Linked DNA regions of Homo sapiens: region 2 is linked to region 1. Evidence: fine-mapped expression QTL. A gene starts in region 1. The other region holds a variant in brackets. All regions are shown on one strand. Distances are from middle to middle. Region 1 holds the start of SEC24A (SEC24 homolog A, COPII component). Region 2 overlaps PCBD2 (pterin-4 alpha-carbinolamine dehydratase 2).

Region 1 (5,380 bases):
AAGTGTTTTTGGATCTATAACTTGGGATTTTGTTATAGTGGCTCCAAACTGTAAACAATTTGACCAAAAGTATCATCTTCATCTTAAGATTTTAACTGGGCGTGGTGGCTCAAACCTGTAATCTCATTTTGGAAGGATGAGGCAGGAGGATCTCTTGCAAGACCTTCTCTTTACAAAAACAAACAAACAAACAAACAAACAAATAAAAACCTAGCCAGGCATAATGGCACACACCTGTAGTTCCAGCTACTCAGGAGGCTGAGGCTGGAGGACTGCTTGAGCCCAGGAGGTTGAGGCAGCAATGAGCTGTGACTGCACCACTGCACTCCAGCCTGGACAACAGACTGTCTCAAAAAAAAAAAAAAAGTTATTGTACTTGGATCTTGTACAAAGGAATTGAATTGTTAAATGCTACTTACAGCAAATATTTATTTATTTTTATTTTTTATTTTTTGAGACAGTCTTGCTGTGTCAGCCAGGCTGGAGTGCAGTGGCACAATCTTGGCTCACAGCAACCTCCGTCTCCTGGGTTCAAGCAATTCTCCTGCCTCATCCTCCTGAGTAGCTGGGATTACAGGCATGTGCCACCACACCTGGCTAATTTTTGTATTTTCAGTAGAGACAGAGTTTCACCATGTTGGCCAGGCTGGTTTTGAACTCCTGACCTCAGGTAATCCGCCCGCCTTGGCCTCCCAAAGTGCTGGGATTACAGTTGTAAGCTACCACGCCCGAGCAAATACATTTTTAGTAAAGTTCTGAGGCAAATGATGAAAACAGGGTTAGTATAAAATTTAGTATTTAGTTATTTGAATTTTTACTGACCTTTTTTAGGCCTGACACAGTGGTTTATTCTTTTTCTTTTCTTAGAGACAAGATCTCACTCTGTCATGCAGGCTGGAGTGCAGTGGTGAGATCACAGCTCACTGTAGCCTCGAACTCCTGGGTTCAGGTGATCCTCCCACATCAGCCTCCTGAGTAGCTGGGACTACAGGGATGTGCCACCACACTGGCCACTTTTTAAAAATTTATTTAATTAAAAACATTGGCTGGGCATGGTGGCTTACGCCTGTAATCCCAGCACTTTGGGAGGCTGAGGCGGGTGGATCAACTGAGGTCAGGTGTTCAAGACCAGCCTGGCCAACATGGTGAAACCCTGTCTCTACTAAAAATACAAAAATTAGCCAGGCATGGTGGCAGGAGCCTGTAATCCCAGCTACTCGGGAGACTGAGGCAGGAGAATTGCTTGAACCCAGGAGGCGGAGGTTGCAGTGAGCGGAGATGGCACCACTGCACTCCAGCCTGGGCAACAGACCAAGACTCTGTCTCAAAAATATATATATATATATATTTTTTAAATAGAGATAAGGGGACTCTCCCTGTTGTCCAGACTGGTCTCAAACTCCTGGCCTCAAGTAATCCTTCTGTCTCAGCCTCCCAAAGTGCTTGGATTACAGGAGTGAGCCACCTTGCCCAGCCCGACACAGTGGTTTAGATCTGGCTTTTTTTTGTATGTAATATAACACTTCATAGCAGGCATTTGGTATTAAATGAATTAGGTAAGATGTACTTCACACTGAGGTTTCGAAACCGCGTGGCATGACATTTTAATCCACAGTACAAATCTGTAAAGGAGGGCTTTATCGTCAGCACAGAGCAGGAAAAACCTAAATAGAATGAAGGCAGCTAAGATGATTACTCAATCATTAATTAACTATGTTGTCCAATCACCGCAGTTTCGACCTCCCTTTGGCTTCAAAAGTCAAAAAAGTCAACTTGCAAAAAAAAAAAAAGTCTACTTGCTCTGAAAGGAAGTTTGAGTTCTTTACCTTACTGTAAACTCTTAGAAGAGGAAACAAAACTGCCATTTAAATGTGCTAATGAACTTGAGCGTGACTATGCTGTGAATCAGCGAGTTTCAAAATTAAAATTCCTCTGAGTCCTCCAGTCAAAGACAAAGGCCTCCTTCTTGGCTTGATCACACTATTAACATGTACACATATTTAACCACCTCTTTTTAAAACCCCTTATAATTTACATCTGAAACACGAAGACGAAATGTGAATGAAATACTGCGATGAACATTAACCGCCCCAGCTCCCAGTGGTGGTACGGTCTCAACAGAGGACGATGACTTCTATGGTCTCAGGTAATCTTCACAAAACCCGAGGAGAGGAACTGTCAGTCCCACCCCACGAAAGCGGCTACTGAATCTCAGATTGCCCCACGATCCTGGCTCTGCGAGCGAGGTCACGTTCACAACGGCGGGAATTTCCGTAGCGGTGACACACGGCACTTCCGGCCGGCCGTGAGAGTCGGTGACGTGGCGGCGAGGCCGGGCACGGTCGTCGGGGTCGGGGCACCAGGAGCTGTCAGGTGGCCTCGGGGCAGCCCGGCTGGCAGAGAAGAGTTCGCCGGCGCGGCGGCGGCTGCTGCGAGCCCGGAGCCGGAAGTGCCACGTGTCCTGATTGCGGCTGCGCGGCCGGCGGCTGACAGGCACTTCCGGCCAGGGCCTCCCTCCTTCTCTCTAGGTTTGGCTGCCGCCTTCTAGCCGGGCGTTCGCGGCCCCGCCGGCCCGACTCTCAAGCCTCAGCTCCCAGGCTAGGCTGTGGCCGCCGGTGGCCTGGGGAGAGTGCGGCGCCATGCCTCGGGCTTAATGCGCCCCCCCCTCTTCTCCCAGTCTTCAGTCTTAAGTCGTTAGCCTCCTCCCTCCGCTTTCAGCAGTGGTCTTTCAGCTCTCTTCTTGTGCGCTGTTGTCGACCCCGACCAGCCCCTTCCAACCCAGTCATCATGTCCCAGCCGGGAATACCGGCCTCCGGCGGCGCCCCAGCCAGCCTCCAGGCCCAGAACGGAGCCGCCTTGGCCTCGGGGTCTCCCTACACCAACGGTGAGTGCTGTCCGGGGGGAGGGCGCAGCCTGGCCAGGGCTGACTGACCTTTGCGTGCCACTGCTGCTTGAGGCGACATAGATAGAGAGAGTGACCTCCTTACCGGGTTCTGGCGCGGATGGTGGTGGGCGGCTGGGCCAGGGGACCACGGCAGTTGTGCACCTGTAGCCCCAGGCTCGTCTCAGTCTTTCACATTTATTTAGTCGGTCACCAAAACAGTAAATGAGCACCTGCTGTATGCAACGCCCTGGGTGAAACACGGGTGAGAAAATGCCTCAAAACTCGAATATAAGGATCATAGTGTTTGTGTGCCTTCGCCTTCCTTGCCACCTCACCCCAGTCTCCTAGAGAGCAGGATGTGGGGTCTGATTCTTCTGGGTTCCGCAGGCCCTGAAGTGGGGTGGGGGTCGTACTCAGTCTGAGTTTCTGGAGATGAATGCATGCTTTTGGGACACCCCTTTAGGGCCTACTCATCTCTCCCAGAACCTTCCCAGAATTGTACCTACAACAGCTGTTCAATGTTTCAGCTGTGGAAAAACCAAATAGAAGGGAGGATCTCCTGGTTGACTTCTAGATGTCTGGACAGCATTTGGAAAGTGGGTGGACACAACTCTCTGAATCTCTGACAAGAGTCTACATGTACATTATAGTTTGTCATTTGATGTGAGAATGTCTTATAATTTTATACCTCTTCTAGGATTCCTTAAATCGTCCTACATTGTGATTTGCTAAGATTATTTCAGTTGTTACAATAGACAAAGACTTTCTGCCGACAGATTGCCTACTTACCAATTTACTTACAAATCTTTGGTTTACAGAAATAAGACTAGTAGAATAATGCTAAAGAACTTAAGTTGCCCATTAGAGTCTAAGAGTTCTGTGAAGTTGGAGAATACAGACAGTGACTAAAATCTCTAATTTACATTGTTTTTAGAGAAGACCGCTGTTTTCTTTACAAAGATGGCTCTAAAAGACTTTTAAAAATGTCTGTGAGTAGGCAACTATGTGGGCAGAAGAAAGAATAAGTGGAGGAAAGCCACTGAAAGGGTACTGAGTTAACCATTCTTTCTCAAAATTATGGTAACAGATTATGTACACTACATTTTATTCTAGAATATTTAGTAACATTTACACTGAGGATGAGAAAAAATGTTACATGGCTATGGATTTTTCTTATAATCTATAAATTGCAGTTTTACATTAACTTTAAATGACAAATCCTCAAATGTGCTTCAACATTTATATATGAGTGTAGTTGTCATAATATTGAAATGTTAAAGGGATTTGACCACTGTGGTATGCTGTATTAGAGATACTGTCACTATGTTGATTTGATACAGTCCAACAGACATTTGTTCCACATCTTTTTTTTTTTTTTTGAGATGGAGTCTTGTTCTGTTGCCCAGGCTGGAGTGCAGTGGTGGTGATCTTGGCTCACTGCAACCTCTGATTCCTGGGTTCAAGCGATTCTCCTGCCTCCTTAACCTTCCAAAGTGCTGTAATTACAGGCCTGATCCACGGTACCCAGACCTCTTTTTTAAAATATAATTTTCATAGTCTTTTTATAAGTTCCATTTCTACAGGGTTTTTTGTTTGTTTGTTTGTTTGTTTGTTTTTTGAGACGGAGTTTTGCTTTTGTCTCCCAGGCTGGAGTGCAATGGCGCTATCTCGGCTCACTGCAACCTCCTCCTCCCAGGTTCAAGCAATTCTCCTGCCTCAGCCTCTGAAGTAGCTGGGATTACAGGCACGTGTCACCACACCCAGCTAATTTTTATATTTTTAGTAGAGACGGGGTTTCACCATGCTGGTCAGGCTGATGTCAAACTCCTGACCTCTAGTGATCCACCCACCTTGGTCTCCCAAAGTGCTGGGATTACAGGCATGAGCCACTGTGCCTGGCCTCTACAGGTTTTTTGTATTTTGCCTTTTTTTTTTTTTTGAGACAGGATCTTACTTAAACTGTCCCTCAAGCTGGAGTGCAGTGGCAGGATCACAACTCACTGTCACTCCTGGGCTCAAGCAATCCTCACACCTCAGCCTCCCCAGTAGCTAGAACTACAGGTGCATACCACCAGGCCCCATTTTTTATATAAGTATATAATATATATATATAATGTATATATTTTATTATTATTTTTTGAGTCAGAGTTTCACTCTGTTGCCCAGGCTGGAGTACAATGGCTCGATCTCGGCTCACTGCAACCTCCATGTCTCAGGTTCAAGTGATTCTCGTGCCTCAGCCTCCCGAGTAGCTGGGATTACAGGCCTGTGCCACCACAACCGGCTAATTTTTGTATTTTTAGTAGAGATGGGGTTTCACCATGTTGGCCAGGCTGGTCTTGAACTCCAAACCTCATAATGATCCGCCCACCCTGGCATCCCAAAGTGCTGGGATTACAGGCATGAGCCACCACGCCCGGCCTAATGTAAAGATATATGTATATTATATATATAATGTTTTATATATATTTTGTAGAGATGAGTCTCTCTATGTTG
Region 2 (5,380 bases), 280 kb after region 1:
ACTAGTGGCAAAGTTAGGACAAGACTAAATGCAACTTAGATTATGAACAGGGTCATGTAACTGTTTACTCATGTCTCTCTCCAGCTAAGGTATAAGCAGCTTGAGGACAGAGACTTGGATTGTACCTGTGTACATCTCCCATAGTACCTAGCCCAGGGTTACCTAGTTGTATTTTGAATGCATGAGGGCCCATGATTAGGTTCCCCATGGGTGATCCTAGTCAGTGCACTTAGTCCCAGGGGAACATAGTGTTTCATCTTTTTGTTCCCTGTAGGATACATACAACCCTTTCTCACCAGGGACTTTTCCTCTCCCTCATCTCCTTACTCCTAGATATCGATGATTCCTAATGGTGACCAGCTTATCTGGCTGCTAAGTTGCTGTGTCTGAGAGATGAGAGAGGGTGCTCTGCATTGCCACAGGGTGCTTCCCAGAACAGCAGCATTGATTGTGCCTTTGTTCTGCATGCAGTACTGAGACATCAGAGAAGAAAATGGCTGCTCATGGTGTCTCTAGTCAGTTGTCTCCAACCATGAGAGAGACTAAGACTGGCATTCAGTATTTTAGCACCACGGTTTCAGCCACCCACAACTACAGCCACAATCGGATGAGAATATTGATGTCCTGAGGGCCAGTGGCAGATACTCGACCAAATACCACACTGGGAGGCTGCCACAGGCCTGTTCGCTGGCTATCCATTAGGCATTCATTTCTGTTTCAAGACAATTCTTTAATCTCAAATTCTTTCTTTCCCTTTCCTTTTCTGTGACCACTGGTCCAGCGTTCTTGGCTGATTTTTCTTTTTCTTTTTGTTTTTTGAGACAGAGTCTTGCTCTGTTGCCCACGCTGGAATGCAGTGGCATGATCGTGGCTCACTGCAACCTTCACCTCCCAGGTTCACGCCATTCTCCCACCTCAGCCTACCGAGTAGCTGGGACTACAGGCACCCACCACCATGCCCGGCTAATTTTTTTTTATTTTTAGTAAAGACAGGGTTTCACCGTGTTAGCCAGGATGGTCTCGATCTCCTGACCTCGTAATCTGCCTGCCTTGGCCTCCCAGCACTTTGGCCACCGCGCCGGCCTTCTTTTTCTTTTTTTTGAATCATAACTTGGTGGTGTGCTATAAAGAAAAGCTAAAATATATTGGCAGTAATTTGAGGAATTAATTTTAGAAATTTGGATATAAAAATGTTGCTTTAAGGTCATTCTGTACACAGGTAACTCTTAATATTGCATCATTTACCTGAAATGCAGCCAAATCAGTTTTCTTTGTGACAGATTAGAGGGTTACAAAGTATTTTATGAACTAATGAGTGTTTGAGTGTCTATTGGGTATAGTAGCTCATTGTTAGGTGACCTATGAACTAACATAGGTTGTTTCATTGAAGCTTCCCAGAAGCCTCCTAAGGTTAGGTGTTCGTATTCCCATTTTGCTAATGGTGGAAAAGTCAGGGAAGTTAAAGAGCTTGCTCAAACTTCCAGAGGAAGTGGGCAGTGGGACCATCATTCCAAGGCCAGATATCCCACCCTAAGGTGACTGCTCTTCTCTTAACACAAGTCTGTATTTTGAAGAATTGTAGAATAACAAAGGATATGGATTGCAGTTTTGTTTAGGAATGTCTTAGAGCTTTGAATGGGCAACTCTGCTATTCAGAATTGAATCTGTTCTGTTTAGGAAGAAATGTTTATTTTGGAGTGCTTAAAGGAGGCGTATGTTATTTGCATGTTTTGAAGAAAAAGATTGCCAGCTACTGAAAGGAATTTGACTTGTAAATTGCTACATGGTTCCCTATGCCCTACCCTGAAAGCATTAGTTTATAATACTGGATTGATCAATGATCAGTTCTAAGTCTGTTACAGATTGGAGGTGAGCATCTATCTAGAGGGGAAAGTCACTTCCAGATAGGTCTGCAGAGAGCAGCTGAAAACTTTATTTGGAGAAGTGGAACTCTGCATACAGAAGATAAACATCGAAGCCACTAACCGTATAGCTGTGGATACAGATGCATAGAAGAGAGGGCCATTTTAATTCTGAGTTTCTTTAAACAATTTTTTTTTGTTTCTTTTTATTATTTTTTAAGAGATGGGGTCTCTGTTGCTTAGATTGGAGTGCAGCGACGTGATCGTAGCTTACTGTAGCCTCAAATTACTGGGCTCAAGCGATCCTCCTACCTCCGCCTCCTGAGTAGCTGGGACTATAGATGCATGCCACATTGCCTGGCTAATTTTTTTTTTTATTTGAGTTGTAGTCTTGCTCTGTCACCCAGGCTGGAATGCAGTGGTGCGATCTCAGCTCACTGCAACCTCCGTCTCCTGGGTTCAAGCAATTCTCCTGCTTCAGCCTCTCAAGTAGCTGGGATTACAGGGATGCGCCACCACGCTCAGCTAATTTTTGTATTTTTAGTAGCAACATGGATTCACCATGTTGGCCAGGCTGGTCTTGAACTCCTGACCTCAAGTGATCCCCCCTGCCTTCTCAGGCAGGGATTATAGATGTGAGCCACCATGCCCACCCCTGGCAAATTTTTTAATTTTACTTTTTTTTGTGGAGATGGGATCTCACTATGTTGCCCAGGCTGGTCTTGAATTCCTGGCCTCAAGCGATCCTCCCATCTTGGCCTCCCAAAGTGCTGTGATTACAGGCGAGAGTCACCACACCTGGCCAATTCGGAGTTTCTTAAACTATGATTCTGTTATGTAAGCTTGTGGGTGAGTCTCTTCCATTTTTCTATGTGTTTAAAACTGTGAGCTTTAAATAGAAGGGTTTAACATTTATAGGT[C/T]ACTCATACTCCACAGAGATCCACATCCACCAGGCCTCTCATTCTAATAGGAATGATACCCTCCTGTTAACATTTGAGTGGCATGTTCAGCTGGTAAATAAATTTTTTTTTATGATTGCATAATATGTTTTATAATTTGGAAAACAGAAAAGTATAAAGAAGAAAAATATACCTGTAATCTTTCTGCTCACTTAAAAACGCTGTGAATGTGCATTTGTGTGAATGTTTATGTATGTATATATATTTGGGATCATATTATAGATATTTTTGGTCAGTTGCTTCTTTCATTTCATGTATAGTGAATATTTTCACATCAGTAAAATATTTTACCTCATGATTTTTTGTTTTGTTTTTTGAGACAGGGTCTCACTGTGTCACCTATGCAGGATTCAGTAGTGCCATCTTGGCTCACTGCAGCCTCTATCTTCTGGGCTCAGATGATCCTCCTACCTCAGCCTCCTGAGTAGCTGGGACTACAGGCATGCGCCACCACACCCGGCTAATTTTTGTATTTTTTGTAGAGACTGGGTTTTGCCATATTGCGCAGGCTGGTCTTGAACTCCTGGGTTCAAGCAGTCCACCCACCTCAGCCTCCCAAAGTTCTGGGACTGTAGGCATGAGCCACTGCAGCTGGCTTACCACACGATTTTGAATGGTGGGAGATATATAAATTATTCCATTGAACAAAAAAGCCATATTTAATTTAGCCAATCCCTTTCTACGGTAACCATCCTCACAGAAGAGGCTTTGTGAGCCCACCTTTTCTAAATGCTCCGTATTAATGCTGTCAGTTGGACACAAAAGTGTCAGGGAGCTGTACTGGGTAGTTCTTGCTAAATATACTCAGGATCTCCATGCCCATTGAGATCAGGAATAGATCCAGTCACCTGTTAAAAAAGTAAATAGAAATCATCACCTAGATAGAATTGATCCATTGAAGCTAAAAAATCAAGCCCTTCAAGTTACTTGAGACAGCCAGAAGGAAAATGTTATGTTATAGGGCTTTGTAGCCACCATTCTCACAGCTTAGTGCAATGGTGTAGGAAATATTTTCACAGAAATATTTCTCTTTTAGAGAGTTTTTTCGGATAAAGAAGGCTTGTTTAATTCAGGAAGAGTTATTTCATAGGAAATTAAATCTTTGTAAATCCTCTATCACATTTCCACACTTGCTAGTTCTGTGGCAAATGATGGCTTTCGAGTGGTTCAGGAAGGGTTTCCTGAAAGCAAACAATTCCATGTTTTATACATATTTGTGTTTTTATTTTTGAATTGGATAAGTAAGGGACATGTACTTTCCCCTTTGTATTTGTCTCTGGGTGATATTGCTGGTTCTCAAACTCAGAATGGTAATTAATTACTTATAATGATTTTAAAAAAAAAAATTTCACTTGGTGAAAATGTTTTCTTGGGCCCGATGAATGACCCCAAAGAACTTTTACAACACAACCAGTAATGTTGGGCAGGTGCTGGAGAGTGGCTGCTGCTTAGAGATCAGTAATTGTTACATCATGGTTTGGTATGCTCCGTGGTGTCTAATCAGGTCGTGTGCTTGGGAACCATGAAATAATTCTCTTTTCAAGTCTTAGTGCATCATTTTTTCTGACATTGATCAAAGATTGGAAAACTAGTATTATATTTGTAGCCACGGTATTCATAACTGTCTTACATTCTTAATCTTTCGGCTTTTTGGTTGAAATACATCTATGCCTCTTAAATATTGAAGGCATAATATCCTTTAACCTACAACTGCAGAGTTAAAATGAATTTTATGTGAAATATTTAGTTGTGGACCACATCTTCAGCTTTTTATATGCCACAGTGGTCTTGTTTTTTTCCCTTCCATTGTCTGATAGTGAGGTCATTTTCAGTCCTCTGAGAAATTCTATTCCCAGCCAGATGCGGCTCATATATTAAAAGTAGCACCTGTGGCTAATATCACAGCAGCTTACCATAAATTTACATGGTAACTAGGATTATATCTGTCAAGACTGTTAAAAAACATCTAGATTTAATTTGATTTCCAGTATTGTAGAAGCTATCCAACATTTTGCTTCATAACTATATTTTAAAAGTTAAAAATCACTCCATTGTTAAGTTTTATAGCACTCCTAGTGCCCATTAAGTTGATTTGTTCAATGGAGGTCAGAGTAAAGCAACTTGGCTACATTAAGATCGGAAACCAACCCATTTGTGACAAATTTAGTCCTTTCGTGTGAATCTTCTCAATGTTTCTGCACTGATTGGATTCAGGTGTAGCTTATGTCAGTAGCATTTAACCTCAAAAGAATGAGCAATCTGATTGGGTTGTTGTAAATTATGAAGCATTTTGCTTTTGCTGGTTTAAATGTAACTGTTGACTCTGCTGCCCGTGCCTGACTGCGCCACTGCATCTGCCTAAACAGGAGTGGTTTGGGTTTGAAGACATCTTAGAAAATTGGGTACATGCCCTCATCCCTTTCCCTCCTTTATGTGACCTTCCTAAACTCCTTTATTCCCCATTATCCTTTGAGTCATCTCCCACATGTTACGATTTGCACACCTGCAGTTATAAAATTATTTTGGGGTGTCATTATATCATGTTGTTCACCAACTTTC

Evidence for each region. PIP is the estimated chance that this variant, and not a neighbour inherited with it, causes the effect.
Region 2: its variant is the best candidate, but not a certain one, in a credible set for the expression of SEC24A in whole blood (INTERVAL, PIP 0.54).

The regions. Positions count from the first base shown.
Region 1 is chr5:134,646,290-134,651,669 of GRCh38, forward strand. SEC24A (SEC24 homolog A, COPII component) reads left to right here and starts at 2,496. Exons shown (of 23, transcript NM_021982.3): 1 at 2,496-2,884. The coding sequence starts at 2,788. RefSeq lists enhancers at 2,037-2,096, 2,107-2,396, 2,144-2,681.
Region 2 is chr5:134,930,118-134,935,497 of GRCh38, forward strand. All of the region lies in intron 2 of PCBD2 (pterin-4 alpha-carbinolamine dehydratase 2), which reads left to right. Among named protein-coding and RNA genes, the nearest start is that of PCBD2, 28 kb to the left of the region's middle. The variant C/T (reference allele first, on the strand shown) is at 2,783.